Regions from separate parts of the Homo sapiens genome. Here region 2 is linked to region 1. The links come from fine-mapping of genetic effects on gene expression. Tissue or cell type: unexposed skin. Region 1 holds a variant in brackets; the other region holds the start of a gene. All regions are shown on one strand. Distances are between the middles of the regions.

Region 1 (8,100 bases):
TGCCCGGCCCACATCACTTCTTCACTTGAGCTAGGAACCATCTGGGGCTTTAGGGTGCATGAGGCAGGATCAGGATTTTAGAGAGCTGTGGACACAGAATTAGCAAATCCTTGATTGTGGGTTTGGTACAAGGTGCAAGACTTGTCATTCAGCTAGGACTGTCTCTTTCAGACCTTTGAAAACATTCACTGGGAAGGGAAGAGTCCCTGGAGGTGTTTGAGACCTGGGCTCTGATGCAGGGCAGGGTGACAGTCACTCTAAAGGGCCCTGTGAATGGGTGTTGTTCACATGGAGTAGAAGACAGTGGGCAAGAGCACCAGGCCAGGCCTTGGCTGCTGTCACCTGAGACTGCGTCCAGAGGGCAGAACTGTGCATGCATGCCCCACTCCTGGAAAAAGAGGCAGTCGCCATCCAGATCTAGTTCCTGGAGGGAGGTATGGAGCAGTTGGGGTCACAGTGTTGCATGAATCGCAGAGGGGGCGCTCACAGGGGTCTCCAGATGTGGCCATGCAGTGACGCTGCCCAGCCCTTACGCCCCCTCCTCAGCCCACTACTCCCTGCCCCGGGTCAGCGAGGAGATGCAGGGGGTGACCAGGGGAGGGTATGAGTGAAGATGATGAGTGGGAACAAGACACTGTGCCCCATTAGTTGAGAATGTTCTAGAGGGTATTGTGCGTTGGGAAGAGGGCGTGGGGAAGAGGGTGAGTGCTCCCAGTCCTACTGGTCCATGAAACCATTAGAAAAGCAAACCTGCCCCCACCAGGAGCCTGCTTATAAAAACAAGGAATGGCCCCAGTTCAAATATATCGTGTTCCTCTCCATTTAATAGGGAGGTTGTAAAACTTAATTATAGAACATAATTCTAAGGACATCAATGGCTTCCTGAGGCTGACAGCAGGGATCACAGACCCAAAGGCCTGCGTCATCAATGACAGAGGCAGAAATAAGATGCTCTCGGGTGAGGGGACTCCAGCCCACCACCAAGAGGCCACCCTCATGTCTTGGGGCCTGGAGCAGTCGGGGCAACAGAGGCCCAGATGCTGTATGTCTAAATGTTTAAAAGTTACCAATCAAGCAACAAGCTGATAAATAAATATTCCCCCTTGACAGTTCAACCTTCAACATGAGCTGATTCAAAGTTCACACCCGAATGGGCAGCATGCAGGGCCAAGCCAAGCTGGGCCTGCCCCATGTGTCCTCCCAGCTCTGACCCCATCCCTGGCCACTGTGTGCATGGCATTCAGGAGGTGGACCCTTCTCTATACTCTCCAAACAGCAGCCCCGGGGCACCCTTCAGGCCTATGGGTGGGCAACACCAGGGGCACAGGTTGGCCTCAGGAGGGTGAGATCCCCATGGGCCCCGGAAGTGGGCTTAGGTTATGTAGGGGAGAGAAGCCTCGGGTTCAGGTACCCAGAGTGTGGTCTAGAATTGGGTGCATGGGCTCGGGGTGGGCACCTCCTCTGCACCCTCCTCCTCATGCTTGTTTCCCAGCATACAGTGTCTTCCTCTGACCTCCTACTGGCCAAACCCTTCATGGCTCTGCAGTAGGCCCACCTCTTCCAGGAAGCCTTCCCGAAGCCCACCTGGCTGAGAGCTCCTCCAACCTTTGATGATGTTCTCCTGCATCTTGGCACTGAATCTTCTAGAGCCACGGTAGCCAACCTTTTAAAATCAGTTGAGGGCACTTAAAAAAATACATCAGTATTTTTACACCTGATTTTTACACCTGGGCCCCAGCCTTGTGCAACAGAACCTAGGGGTGGAGTCTAAGCATGGACAGTTTTTAAAGCCCCAGGCAGCCAGGGCTGAGGACCTTGGCGATGGAGCCTGTTAGTTCGCTTTCCTTGTGTATATCGTCTCTTGAGCATCTCTTCACATGGCCCAGACCTTAATAGACACTGAATAAATATTTGCTGACCCCAGTGACTAAGATTGAAAACCAGAATGCAGAACTGTTCTAGTAATAATTGAGAGACTTGTATTTCATTGGCTTTGCACTAAACCAAATGCTCAGTAACTACTAGTAAATCGAGTAAAATTAACTAGGGCACTAAATGATTATTCTAAGCTTCTTGTGAGTTTCAAGAGAATTCTTTTTGTGGCCTCACTTGTGTCCACATTATTTACTTCATCATTCATTCATTCATCCATTCATCCATCTATCTATCCATTCAGTAAACATTTCTCTGAGCCTCTATAATGTGCCAGGCTCTGAACTAAGCTGCCGGGGAAATAGAGATGAAAGCTCTGGCTACAGCTTAATGGGGAAAACAGATGTGAGCCCAAAGAATTAGAGCGTGCACCGCAGCTGCCACCCATTATTACTCTCTACTGAAAGTCACAAGCTTGGGGCTGATTCATTTTGGCACCAGTATCACCTCCGTGAACCCCTGTGGTCTAAGAGCAGCAGTATTCAAAGTGTGGTCCCCAGACCAACAGGATTGACTTCACGTGACCTAGGGACTTACAAGAAATGCAAATGGTCAGACCCTATCCCAGACTCAGAAACCCCCCAGGTGGGACCAGCAGTCTGTTTGAACAAGACCTCCCGGTCATTGTGAAGCCTGACATGTCAGCGAGCCTTTGCCTTCCAGCCATGTTTCTCAAGCTTGGCTACGCATTCAAATCATTCGAATGAGAAGCTTCCAAAAATTTGGTCCCCAGACCAATTAAATCAGGATCTCAGCTGGTTGTGGTGGCTCATTCCTGTAATCCCAGCAATTTGGGAGGCCGAGGCAGGCAGATCACTTGAAGTCAAGAGTTTGAGACCAGCCTGGCCAACAGTAGGAACCCTGTTGCTACTAAAAATACAAAAATTAGCCAGCTGTGGTGGCGCGCGCCTGTAGTCCCAGCTACTTGGGAGGCTGAGGCAGGAGAATTGGTTGGACTCAGGAGGTGGAGGTTGCTGTGATCCGAGATCACGCCACTGGACTCCTGCCTGGGCGACAGAGTGAGACTATCATCTAAAAAAAAAAATCAGGTTCTCAGGGAATAGGATCTGGGCCTCAGAACTGTTTAAGCTCTCCAGGTGAATGGAATAAAGCCCCGCCTTAGCAGGCGTGAGAATGCCAATCAAAGGCCAGGCTGACTGACAACCACCAGTGCGTCTGGGCCGCTCAGCTAGGACTCCTGCTTCTCTCAAGCCATCTTCACACGGGGGCGTTCAGAACAAGCTCTGCGTTCTATTTCCAGCTCCGAGGTTCCTCTCCCAAGCATGAACTTTGTTCAGACAAGTAGCAGAACCTGCCTTTTCAACGAACACTTGCGAAGTCGGCTCAGGAAGGAAATGTCAGTGATGCCGAAGCTGCCAACTCCGTGCTTGTTGAGTAGTGATTCTTGATCAGTCATACGGGAAGAGAGAGTAAGAGGTGAATCACATGCTGAGTGGTTTGTGCTGTGAATGTTTGCTGAGCTCTTTGGAACTCTCTGGGTATGAGTAACTCAGGCCCTTATGAATTCCTTTTGTCGTCTTAGTCTCCTGTTCTGAACTGAGTTAAATCATATATTACATTGGTAATTTATATATATTTATATATATTATTTCTTTTTTTTTTCTTTTTCAGACAGGGTCTTACTCCTCACTCCTGTTGCCCAGGCTGGAGTGCAGTGGCACAATCACGGCTCAGTGCAGCCTCCACCTCCCGGGCTCAGGTGATCCTCCCATCTCAGCCTCCCAAGTAGCTGGGACTACAGGCACATGCGCCACCACGCCAAGCTAATTTGTTGTCTTTTTTGTAGAGACAGGATTTCACAGCCCAGGCTGTCTCAAGCTCCTAAAACGATCTACCCACTCCAGCCTCCTAAAGTGCTGGGATTACAGGCGTAAGCCACCCCACCCAGCCAAATTATAATTTATCTTATGTTATGATTACATGTATTGTAATTAGCAAGTGCATAGAAAAATATAATCACAAGAGCTCTCCCTCTCCCTCTCCCACTCCCTCTCCCTCTCCGTCTCCCTCTCCCTCTCCCTCTCCCCACGGTCTCCCTCTCATGCGGAGCCGAAGCTGGACTGTACTGCTGCCATCTCGGCTCACTGCAACCTCCCTGCCTGATTCTCCTGCCTCAGCCTGCCGAGTGCCTGCGATTGCAGGCACGCGCCGCCACGCCTGACTGGTTTTGGTGGAGACCGGGTTTCGCTGTGTTGGCCGGGCCGGTCTCCAGCCCCTAACCGCGAGTGATCCGCCAACCTCGGCCTCCCGAGGTGCCGGGATTGCAGACGGAGTCTCGTTCACTCAGTGCTCAATGGTGCCCAGGCTGGAGTGCAGTGGCGTGATCTCGGCTCACTACAACCTACACCTCCCAGCCGCCTGCCTTGGCCTCCCAAAGTGCCGAGATTGCAGCCTCTGCC[C/T]GGCCGCCACCCCGTCTGGGAAGTGAGGAGTGTCTCTGCCTGGCCGCCCATCGTCGGGGATGTGAGGAGCCCCTCTGCCTGGCTGCCCAGTCTGGAAAGTGAGGAGCGTCTCCACCCGGCCGCCATCCCATCTAGGAAGTGAGGAGCGCCTCTTCCCAGCCGCCATCACATCTAGGAAGTGAGGAGCGTCTCTGCCCGGCCGCCCATCGTCTGAGATGTGGGGAGCGCCTCTGCCCCGCCGCCCCATCTGGGATGTGAGGAGTGCCTCTGCCCGGCCGAGACCCCGTCTGGGAGGTGAGGAGCGTCTCTGCCCGGCCGCCCCGTCTGAGAAGTGAGGAGACCCTCTGCCTGGCAACCACCCCGTCTGAGAAGTGAGGAGCCCCTCTGCCCGGCCAGCACCCCGTCCGGGAGGGAGGTGGGGGGGTCAGCCCCCCGCCCGGCCAGCCGCCCCGTCCGGGAGGGAGGTGGGGGGGGTCAGCCCCCCCGCCCGGCCAGCCGCCCCGTCCGGGAGGTGAGGGGCGCCTCTGCCCGGCCGCCCCTACTGGGAAGTGAGGAGCCCCTCTGCCCGGCCAGCACCCCGTCCGGGAGGGAGGTGGGGGGGTCAGCCCCCCGCCCGGCCAGCCGCCCCGTCCGGGAGGGAGGTGGGGGGGGGGTCAGCCCCCCCGCCTGGCCAGCCGCCCCATCCGGGAGGTGAGGGGCGCCTCTGCCCGGCGGCCCCTACTGGGAAGTGAGGAGCCCCTCTGCCCGGCCAGCCGCCCCGTCCGGGAGGGAGGTGGGGGGGGTCAGCCCCCCCGCCCGGCCAGCCGCCCCGTCCGGGAGGTGAGGGGCGCCTCTGCCCGGCCGCCCCTACTGGGAAGTGAGGAGCCCCTCTGCCCGGCCAGCCGCCCCGTCCGGGAGGGAGGTGGGGGGGTCAGCCCCCCCGCTCGGCCAGCCGCCCCGTCCGGGAGGGAGGTGGGGGGGGTCAGCCCCCCTGCCCGGCCAGCCGCCCCGTCCGGGAGGTGAGGGGCGCCTCTGCCCGGCCGCCCCTACTGGGAAGTGAGGAGCCCCTCTGCCCGGCCACCACCCCGTCTGGGACGTGTGCCCAACAGCTCATTGAGAACGGGCCAGGATGACAATGGCGGCTTTGTGGAATAGAAAGGCGGGAAAGGTGGGGAAAAGATTGAGAAATCGGATGGTTGCCGTGTCTGTGTAGAAAGAAGTAGACATGGGAGACTTTTCATTTTGTTCTGCACTAAGAAAAATTCCTCTGCCTTGGGATCCTGTTGATCTGTGACCTTACCCCCAACCCTGTGCTCTCTGAAACATGTGCTGTGTCCACTCAGGGTTAAATGGATTAAGGGCGGTGCAAGATGTGCTTTGTTAAACAGATGCTTGAAGGCAGCATGCTCGTTAAGAGTCATCACCAATCCCTAATCTCAAGTAATCAGGGACACAAACACTGCGGAAGGCCGCAGGGTCCTCTGCCTAGGAAAACCAGAGACCTTTGTTCACTTGTTTATCTGCTGACCTTCCCTCCACTATTGTCCCATGACCCTGCCAAATCCCCCTCTGTGAGAAACACCCAAGAATTATCAATAAAAAAATAAATTAAAAAAAAAATAATAATCACAAGAATAATTACTGTCTGTTGAATGCTTGCTATGTGTTAGGCATTATGTTAAGCACTTTACGTACATAGTCTCAATAAGCTTCAGAAAAGCCCAATGCATACGTATTACTGTATTCCCTGCTTTTTCAAGATGAGGAAACTGAGGAGAAGGAATGTGAGTAACTCACTCAAGGTCATATAGACAGAAAATGGCAGAGCCAGAGTTTGAACCTAGGTCTATCATCAAAGATTGCTCTTTTAGCCCCAACCTCTACTGCCTCATGGTAAATAGTAGCATTCCTATGTAGTAATACTGTCAAAATTATATAGTGCAATATGCAAATAATTGCTACTGGATAGTGTTTTTTCCTACATAAAATTATACATGATTTAACAAGCAATTGTACATAGTATAAACTCAGTAAATGCTGTATATGAAACAGTGTTACCATTTACAGCTACTTTTATAATATCAATTATGTATCAATTACAGTTAATTTGTATCTGTAACCAATAATGTTATTTCAACATTCCTGGAATCTTGCCTTTTTTTTTTGAGACAGGTTCTCACTCTGGCCCAAGCTGGAGTGCAGTGGCACAATCAGGGCTCACTGCAGCCTTGGCTTTCTGGGCTCAAGCCATCCTCCTGCATGAGCCCCCCAGTAGCTAGGACTGCCACCACACCTGTTTTTAGATTTTAGTGGAGATGAGGTCTCATTATGTTGCCCAGGCTGGTCTCAAACTCCTGAGCTCAAGCCATCCTCCCACCCTGGCCTCCCAAAGTGCTGGGATTATAGGCATGAGCCACCATGCCTGACCTGGAATGTTGCATTGAGAATATGTGGCATCTCTGAAACTACTAGGTGATTACTTAGATACAGCGTTAAAGGAAAAAAGCAGGATGTAAAATTATACATATGATACCAGTTTTGTAAAAAATATGCATGTGTATTTTATATGCATAGAAAAAATAGGAAGGAAGTGCCCCAAATCTCACCGAAATTGTGATTGGATGGTTGGATTACAAGAGATTTTTATTTTTTTCTTGATACTTGAGGCCAGACCAAGATGTGAGGGTGAAGGGTACTTGAGATAGGTTGGTAGCTTGGCAGTGCTGCAAACTGGTGTCCTCTGAATTTTTGTTCCACATTTTTTAAGTGGGACATGGAGAAATTGGTTACCGATTGATAAGTAATGTGTACAAATAGAGATTAAATTCCTGGTTCATTCCCACAGACCAAAGTAGAATGCCTGTTCTTTGGCAGGAGCAGGGAGGAGAGGAAGCAAATTGGTTCCCACTTCTCTGTTGCTCTTATTCTTTCTTTGTAAAATTCCAAACCCCACAGTTTATTGGGAAACATCCTAGGTTAAAATGTAAATGCTAAAATAAGTTACTAATTCCTAGCCCTTTCACTGGTATAATTGGGGTTTCTGCATTTCAGCTGACTGCTACATGCACGGTACAAAAATACTGCACAGAGAGAGGCTGACGGCAGTGAGGAACAGTTTTGTTTGTTTCTTTATTTATTATATTTCTCTCTTCCTCGTGTTTTGCCAGTGACATAAGGCGTCCTGTGAGGAGTCCTGTGTTAACTGGCCCCGCATTTCCACTTAAACCTAGGCATGTCAGCACCCTTTTCTCATTCGAGAAAAATTAGAAAATACACAAACTTTCCAAATGAGAAGGGGAAAATTTTTTAAATTATTATTTTTTTAAGCTGCAAAGAATGAACGTCTAAAAGATCTCATGGGCTTGGGCTCTGTAGGAGTTGGCAGTAGTAACACCATCACCCGATCATCTGCTGGTGGCCAAAAGGAAAGCCCTTATCAAAAAGGTATTTAGGAGCCTGGAGTCACAGCTTTTATCTCTGATGGGAAGCTGTGCACACTCTAAAGTGAGGTGGCCTGGTGCAGCCCCACTGGAGGGTGTTTTTAAGTTCTTGCAGTGACAAGTTGTCACATTTTCTTTTTGCTTCATCCAGATGCATGAATCAAAGCAACTGAAGTCTGAAAGGGAATGAAATGCCATGAGCCAGTATCTGTAACCTGCGGGTGACAACTCGAGAGCAACAAGTGACTGGGTTTAAGATGATCTCCTTTTAAAGGCGTCTTTAAAGCAAAAGGAAGCATGTGTGTTAGGGATCCACGCGCATGTGATGA
Region 2 (8,100 bases), 75 kb before region 1:
GTAGCTGGGACTATAGGTGCACACCACCATGCCTCGCTAATTTTTATACTTTTTGTAGAGTCAGGGTTTCACCATGCCCAGCCTGGTCTTCAACTCCTGGGCTCAAGTGATCTTCCTGCCTCCCAAAGTGCTGGGATTACTGGCGTGAGCCACCGTGCCTGGATATCGTATTTTAATTTGTAATTTTTTTGGTATGTACTCCCCCTGCTTTAATTTTAATTTTTTAAATTAAAGTACTATATACAGGCTGGGTGTGGTGGCTCATGCCTGTAATCCCAGCACTTTGGGAGGCTGAGGTGGGTGGATCACCTGAGATCAGGAGTTCAAGACCAGCCTGGCCAACATGGCGAAACCCCATCTCTATTAAAAATACAAAAATTATCTGGGCATGGTGGCACGTGCCTGTAATCCCAGTTGCTCAGGAGGCTGAGGCAGGAGAATTGCTTGAACCGGGGAGGCGGAGGTTGCAGTGAGCCGAGATTGTGCCACTGTACTCCAGCCTGCGCGACAGAGAACCCATCTCAAAAAAAAGAAAGTAATACATACATGCCAGGTGTGGTGGCACATGCCCAAAATCCCAGCACTTTGGGATGCTGAGGTGGGCAGATCACTTGAGCCCAGGAGTTTGAGACCAGGCTGGCCAGTATGGTGAAACCCTGTCTCTACTAAATATACAGAAACATTAGCTGAGCATGGTGCTGCATGCCTGTAGTCCCAGCTACTCAGGAGGCTGAGGCACGAGAATTGCTTGAACCTAGGAGGCTGAGGTTGCGGTGAGCTGAGATTGCACCACTACACTCCAGCCTGGGCAACAGAGCAAGACTCTGTCTCAGAAAAATAAAGCAATACATACGCATGGTTAAAAAATTAATGATATGGAAATATATAAAAGTAAACATCTTCTTTTTCCAAAGGACTAGTCCTCTCTGGAAGTAACCACTCTTAACAAGTTTTTCCATGTTCTTCCAGAAAACTTCGCACACTAGAGCAACACAGGTGTCCTTTTAGAAAATATTATCGGCCGGGCACGGTGGCTCACACCTGTAATCCCAGCACTTTGGGAGGCTGAGGTGGGTGGATCACCTGAGATCAGGAGTTCTGAGACCAGCCTGGCCAACATGGCGAAACCCTGTCTCTACTAAAAATACTAAAATTAGGCGGGTGTGGTGGCGGGCACCTGTAGTCCCAGCTACTCAGGAGGCTGGGGCATGAGAATTGCTAGAACCTGGGAAGCAGAGGTTGCAGTGAGCCAAGATTGTGCCACTGCACTCCAGCCTGGGTGACAGAGTGAGACTGTGTCTCAAAAAAAAAAAAAAAGAAAGAAAATATTATCAAATAGGTTCATACTTTGGTGGGGTTTTGGTTTGTTTTGACTAAAACCCTTCATTCTCTGTACTGTATTTGAACAATACCTATTGATGGACATTTCTGGTGTTTTCAGTTTTTGAATTTCTACACAGTCCTGGAATGAACATTTCATTTGTATGTCTCGCTAATTTTTATACTTTTTGTAGAGTGCTGGGATTACAGGCATTTGTATGTCTTGTAATTTGTATGTCATCTTGCAATTGTGTACTATGTACCTTGGATGTACCTTTTAAAGATCGTTGGTGGTGGGACACGTGTTTTTTGAGGAAGATGGTACTGAGGTCAGCACCCTGGCTGCCCTGAGAGTGCAGTGCCACGTTCCCCACCCTCTCGCCAACCACAGGATTATGCTGCAAATGTAAATCTTTACCAATTTGATAGGCAAAAAATGGGATCTCAGCATTTTAGCCTGCATCTCTGAGTACTAACGAGGCTGAACACGAAATGAGCTTATTTTCTTTTCAGAAGCCCCTGAATGTGACAGTGATCCGCAGGGGGGAAAAACACCAGCTTAGACTTGTTCCAACACGCTGGGCAGGAAAAGGACTGCTGGGGTAAAGTATCTGTTTCTGTTCATTCTCACTGGGGCATCATTTGAGTGTTTGTTAAACATGAAGCTGGAGGGGAAGGCTGGGGAGACATTGGGGAATAATGGGAATCCCCAGTTTGCATGGAAACTGCAGATAAATCCTCGTGGTAGGAACGAGACTACAGCTCTAGAAGCAGAGGGAGCCCCAGAGTCTCTCCTGGGAGTCTCTCCAGTTCATTCATGCACTAGGCATTTGCTTTAAAAGAATGAAAGAACATTGGTGAAAAGGTCAGAAGGGCTCAGCCTCTGACCTTCCTGAAGGGAGCCTCCAAACTTACGCCATTCCTTTTCTTCTTTCTTCCAGCTGCAACATTATTCCTCTGCAAAGATGATTGTCCCTGGGGAACAGTAACAGGAAAGCATCTTCCCTTGCCCTGGACTTGGGTCTAGGGATTTCCAACTTGTCTTCTCTCCCTGAAGCATAAGGATCTGGAAGAGGCTTGTAACCTGAACTTCTGTGTGGTGGCAGTACTGTGGCCCACCAGTGTAATCTCCCTGGATTAAGGCATTCTTAAAAACTTAGGCTTGGCCTCTTTCACAAATTAGGCCACGGCCCTAAATAGGAATTCCCTGGATTGTGGGCAAGTGGGCGGAAGTTATTCTGGCAGGTACTGGTGTGATTATTATTATTATTTTTAATAAAGAGTTTTACAGTGCTGATATGACCCTGTTGTCACCCCAGCTGAATTTCTTATGACCCTCCCAAACCAAAGCTCAGATGGGGTCAGAAGAGCTTCATAGAAAGTTGGGCAAAACAGGCTAGCAATTGCAAAGTCAGGCTTTGACCAACATATTTCTTTGCACTGAGGCCTTGCTGCTGTGGATACGGAAATGGTTAAGTACTGTGCTTCCTCAGCAGCTGGGCTGTCAGGGCCATAGTAGCTCCCTTTGGAGAACAGGGAAAGCCTGGAGGCTTCCCAGGTGGCCCAGCGTGGTGTCCTGTCAGCTTCCTCTTTAGGAACCCACCAGAGGGCAGCAAGCTCCTTTCACTTCGCTAGTAAGAACCCCTCCGTTTTTGTGTGTTTTTGTTTTTGTTTTCTGGAGACAAGGTCTTGCTTTGTCACCCAGGCTGGAGTGCAGTGTCGTGATCAAGGTTCACTGAAGCCTTGACGCTGTGGGCACTGCCTCAGCCGCCCAAGTATCTGGGACCACAGGCGTGCACCACCATGCATAGCTAATTTATTTTTTGTAGAGACAGGGTCTCCCTGTGTTGACCAGGTTGGTCTCGAACTCCTGGGCTCAAGCAGTCCTCCTGCCTTGGCCTCCTAAAGTGCTGGGATCACAGGCGTGAGCCACTGCGCCCAGCCCACTGCTAGTTTGACTTTTTATAATTGAACCTCCTGGCTATGCCCTGAGATCAGCGCTATTTTGTAAACCGCTGAGGTATGGATAGGAACGAGTAGATCAGACCTCTTGAAAATGCTTATTCTTCCTCCCTTTTATTTTTTGTCTCTTTTAAGATGGTAAAATGGTTCTCAGGGATTCCTGCCAATACTTTGAATTATTTTTTCCTCTCCATGGTATCAGTGTTCATTTCCCCAGTTCTTGCACACCGCTTTCTGTTTTGGCAGTTCTGCCAGGCAAGCCCTGTGTTCCTTGGGACTGGTTTTGCTGTGGTTGGATACAGATACCAGCTTGCCTTGATGGGATTGGTATTGCTGTGTGCTTCCAGCCACAGGTTCTCACACTCAATTCCAAAGCCTTCCTATTGGGCGAATTCCCTCAAACTCTATTTGACCTGACAGCCATACGTATTCCCCTCTGGTAGCCACAGACATGCTGTGTTTACCAATGTTTGCTGTTTAAATTGCATGTTCTAATTCCACGTATTTTCCAGTCTCTTTTATAAAGTCTCAGACTATAATAAACACAGCTTGCCCAGTTTATCCTTTCTTTTTTATTTTAAGATGTATGCATATTAATCAATTTACCATCACTGGGGCATGGCAGTGTGGGCGGGGAGAATTATTCACATTCTCCTAAAATGACAGCAGCAGAGAGCCTTCTGCCTCAGTGGCTCTGGCTGGTTTCCTGCAGGGGTCCCAGTGGAAACCCGTGTGGCCACCTGTTGCCGTCTTCCATGAGATGTTAGTGGAGAGCCACTTTGACGTGGAATGATCCTAATAGATATAGCCAGACCGGTTTTGCGGAAACGCTTTGTGCTGAGAACCGCAAGCTGGTGCACCCTGTGTCATATCTGCCCCCAGCCAGCTGGAATTGTCTGCAACACGCGGTGCCCGGTGAGGAGGCAGGCAGGACGGTTGTGTGCTGCATCCATGAGACCTGGAAATTCAGTTTGCTTTTGGAAAAGAGCATTGTATCCGAGTTCATACTTCTCCACCCCATCTTGCCAAGGTTGCGGAAAGTAAAAATTGGCAGTATTGGCCGCTGCAGCTTCTTAGGGGACGGGACCATGTGAAAAGGTGGGATCGTGCGAGCGGAGGAAGGACAGAAAAGCGAGGAAAGTCTATGCCGCCAGCGACCGGCAGGAGGCACGTCGGGCACGCTCGTCACCGTTTCCTGGCACGTGACCACCGCCCTGCCCTGTCGCTTTAGGGCCTGTCGCTTCCGGCGGTGGCGGTTGCCATGGGGACGGAGCTTGGGTGGCAACCAGAACTAGGGAGCTGGTGGAGAAGGTGGCGGCCGCTGGAAGGAGGCCCGGGAGGTGGCTGAGGGGTCCAGGCGGCGGGACGACTCTGGCCTTTTGAAGACCGGGGTGGGTGCTCTCTGTAAGTCCGGGGCGGAGGCCACGCGGCCCTGGCGAGGGGGCCCCCGACCTGGCGGGGTCTGGTGCCCCTTGGGGGGCGCTCACCCGACCTGGCCCTTGTGGGGCCTGGGGCGGCCCCAGGGAGACCTGAGTTGGAGGCAGAGGCCGCACCTGGGCTTTAATCCCCTCGCAGAGCCACGCACCTGGCACCCCTGCCCCAAACCCCTGCGGCTCGAACCCGGCTGTCCAGACGCGCCGGCGAAGTTGGGCTCAGTCAAAAGAGGCTCGGTGGTGAGAGCCCTAGACTTGATTCAGAGCAGTGATTTTTCAGCTGGAGAAACTAAGTGCCAGAGAAATCTCGTTCTTACTAGCGGTGTCATCTTGAATAAGTCACTTCACCTCTCAGAGCCTCAAACTCATTTATCCATTCATTATTTATTTATTATTATTATTATTATTTTTTTTTTACCAGAGATGAATTTGAGGAGCTGATACATTTAGTGCTGAGAAAGAAATTAAGAAATAGAAATACCTTTTCTACTCTGTACTCTCTGGGACTTTATTTTCAAAGTGTTGAGTTCTCTTATTCTAATGTCACTGAAAATGTAGGGATTTTTTTTGTTCGGGGTCCAACTCTTTAGGGATAAAGTATCCATCCTTATTGTTTTCCTAGTTCAAACTCTTGTTTGTTGTAAGGAATAAATGGAGAATATGCCAGAAGGCTTTCAAACTGTTCATTTCTTTGCACATTAGGGTTGCTTTTCTCTCAAATAATAACAACTGCTACCATTTTTTCAAGCTGTATGTGCCAGAATTGTGATGAGCATTTTATATATGTTATCACTTCTCTACAACAACCCTAGAATTTAGGATTATTCTTTTCATTTTGCCCATGAGAAAATGCAGACTCTGAGGGGTAAAGTGACTTGCCCAAGGTCACAGAGCAAGTACGTGGTGGAAATGGGATTCAATGCTAGGACAAGCTGACAGCAAGGCCCTTGCTTTTAACCACTAGGCTACCCTGCTTCTTCTCGTATTCCTGTTTCTAGAATTGTTGCTAATATGTGGGTTATGCATTTTGCTGCCTGTGGGAATATAAATATATTTTAAATGAGTAAAAAGGCTACAAGGTGTTTATTCCCAGAAAGTTGACAGGCCCTGGATCAGTATTTTTAAGATCTGGGCCACAAATACATATACTTTAAGATTTCCCAGCTGCGCGTGATGGCTCACGCCTGTAATCCCAGCACTTTGGGAAGCCAAGGCGGGCGGATCACTTGAGGTCAGGAGTTTAAGACCAGACTGGCCAAAATGGTGAAACCCTGCCTCCATTGAAAAAATACAAAAATTAGCTGGGTGTGGTGGCAGACGCCTGTAATCCCAGCTGCTCGGGAGGCTGAGGCAGGAGAATAGCTTGAACCCTGGAGGCAGTAATTGCAGTGAGCCAAGATCGTGCCACTGCACTCCAGCCTGGGCAACAAGAACAAAACTCTGTCTCAAGAGAAAAAAAAAAAAAAGGTTTCCCACAAATGTGACTTTTTTTTTTTTTTTTTTTTTTTGAGAGAGGGTCTCGCTCTGTTGCCCAGGCTGGACTGCAGTGGCATGATCTTGGCTCGCTGCAACCTCCGCCTCCCAGATTCAAGCTATTCTCCTGCCTCGGCCTTCTGAGTAGCTCAGATTACAGGCACCACCACCACACCAGGCTTTTTGTATTTTTTTTTTTTTTTTGAGACGGAGTCTCGCTGTGTTGCCCAGGCTGGAGTGCAGTGGCACGATCTCGGCTCACTGCAAGCTCCGCCTCCCGGGTTCACACCATTCTCCTGCCTCAGCCTCCCGAGTAGCTGGGACTACAGGCGCCCACCGCCAAGCCCGGCTAATTTTTTGTATTTTTAGTAGAGACGGGGTTTCACCGTGTTAGCCAGGATGGTCTCGATCTCCTGACCTCGTGATCCACCCGCGTCAGCCTCCCAAAGTGCTGGGATTACAGGCGTGAGCCACCACGCCCGGCCAACTTTTTGTATTTTTAGTAGAGATGGGGTTTCACCATGTTGGCCAGGCTGGTCTCAAACTCCTGACCTCAACTGATCCTCCCGCCTCAGCCTCCCAAAGTGTTGGGATTACAGGCGTGAGCCACTGTGCCTGGCCAGAAATATGACATTCTTTTTTTGTTTTTATTTTTGAGACAGAACTTTGCTCTTGTTACCCAGGCTGGAGTGCAATGGTATGATCTTGGCTCACTGCAACCTCTGCCTCCCAGGTTCAAGCGATTCTCCTGCCTCAGCCTCCCAAGTAGCTGGGATTACAGGCGCCTGCCACCACACCCAGCTAATTTTTGTATTTTTAGTAGAAACGGGGTTTCATCATGTTGGCCAGGCTGGTCTCAAACTCCTGACCTCAGGTGATCCATCTGCATTGGCCTCCCATAGTGCTGGGATTACAGGCATGAGCCACCGTGCCTGGTCAGAAACATGACATTCTTTTTATTCCTATGGAAAGGGAACAGAGCCATTTATGCACATTTCATCAGTAGGTTAGTGCACTAGGAGATGGAAATGGGAAGCTGAGGGCCAGCTGGTTATTATGGTCAAAATCTCTCTAGAGGAAACTCTACAGAGAAGAATGTCAGATGCAGCAGAAGCTCCCCGAGAAGCAACAGGAGAAAATGGAGAAACAGAAATGAAAGAAGAGGAGGAACCTAATCCAAATTATAAAGAAGTAGAAGATCCACAACAGGAATCAAAAGATGACACAATAGCATGGAGAGAGTCTCAGGAGGAGGAGAGGAAAACGGGCGAGGAGGAAGGGGAGGAGGAGGGGAAGGAGGACAAAAAGATTGTCATGGAAGAAACTGAGGAAAAGGCTGGAGAAGTCCAAGAGAAGGAGGCTTCAGGAATACAGGAAGAAACCACAGTAGAGCCCCAAGAAGTCACAGCGTCCATGATCCGTTTGGAGACACAGATTACTGATTCCCAGTCAATCACATCAGGAATTTTCCCAGTAAGTAGTCATCTTAATTCATTCATCAATTCATTCAGAATCATTAGTTGAATGCTTAGTATAGGCCAGACTATGGGAACACAAAACCAAATAAGGTACAATCCATTCCTTTTTTTTTTTTTTTGAGACAGAGTCTCACTGTTGCCCAGGCTGGAGTGCAGGGGCACAATCTCAGCCTGCTGCAACCTCCGCCTCCTGGGTTCAAACTATTCTCCTGCCTCAGTCTCCTGAGTAGCTAAGATTACAGGCATCCACCACCACACCCAGCTAATGTTTTATATTTTCAGTAGAGATGGGGTTTCGGTCTTACCATGTTGGCCAGACTGGTCTCAAATGCATGATCTCAAATGATCTGCCCACCTTGGCCTCCCAAAGTGCTAGGATTACAGGCACACGCCACCACGCCCGGCCACAATCCATTCTTTTTTTTTTTTTTTTT

What was found. PIP is the estimated chance that this variant, and not a neighbour inherited with it, causes the effect.
Region 2: CFAP251 starts here. The variant in region 1 is fine-mapped to the expression of CFAP251 in unexposed skin (GTEx, PIP above 0.99).

The regions. Positions count from the first base shown.
Region 1 is chr12:121,989,027-121,997,126 of GRCh38, forward strand. The region is part of intron 19 of CFAP251 (cilia and flagella associated protein 251); the gene reads left to right. It overlaps LOC124903038 (a long non-coding RNA gene), which reads right to left. Exons shown (of 2, transcript XR_007063499.1): 2 at 7,447-7,947. Among named protein-coding and RNA genes, the nearest start is that of BCL7A, 29 kb to the right of the region's middle. RefSeq lists enhancers at 2,009-2,058, 3,141-3,240 and a silencer at 5,997-6,291. The variant C/T (reference allele first, on the strand shown) is at 4,353.
Region 2 is chr12:121,914,023-121,922,122 of GRCh38, forward strand. CFAP251 (cilia and flagella associated protein 251) reads left to right here and starts at 4,570. Exons shown (of 22, transcript NM_144668.6): 1 at 4,570-4,673; 2 at 7,264-7,661. The coding sequence starts at 7,284. PSMD9 (proteasome 26S subunit, non-ATPase 9) reads left to right here. Exons shown (of 6, transcript NM_002813.7): 5 at 1,834-1,922; 6 at 2,262-4,275. The coding sequence ends at 2,289. RefSeq lists a silencer at 4,699-4,848.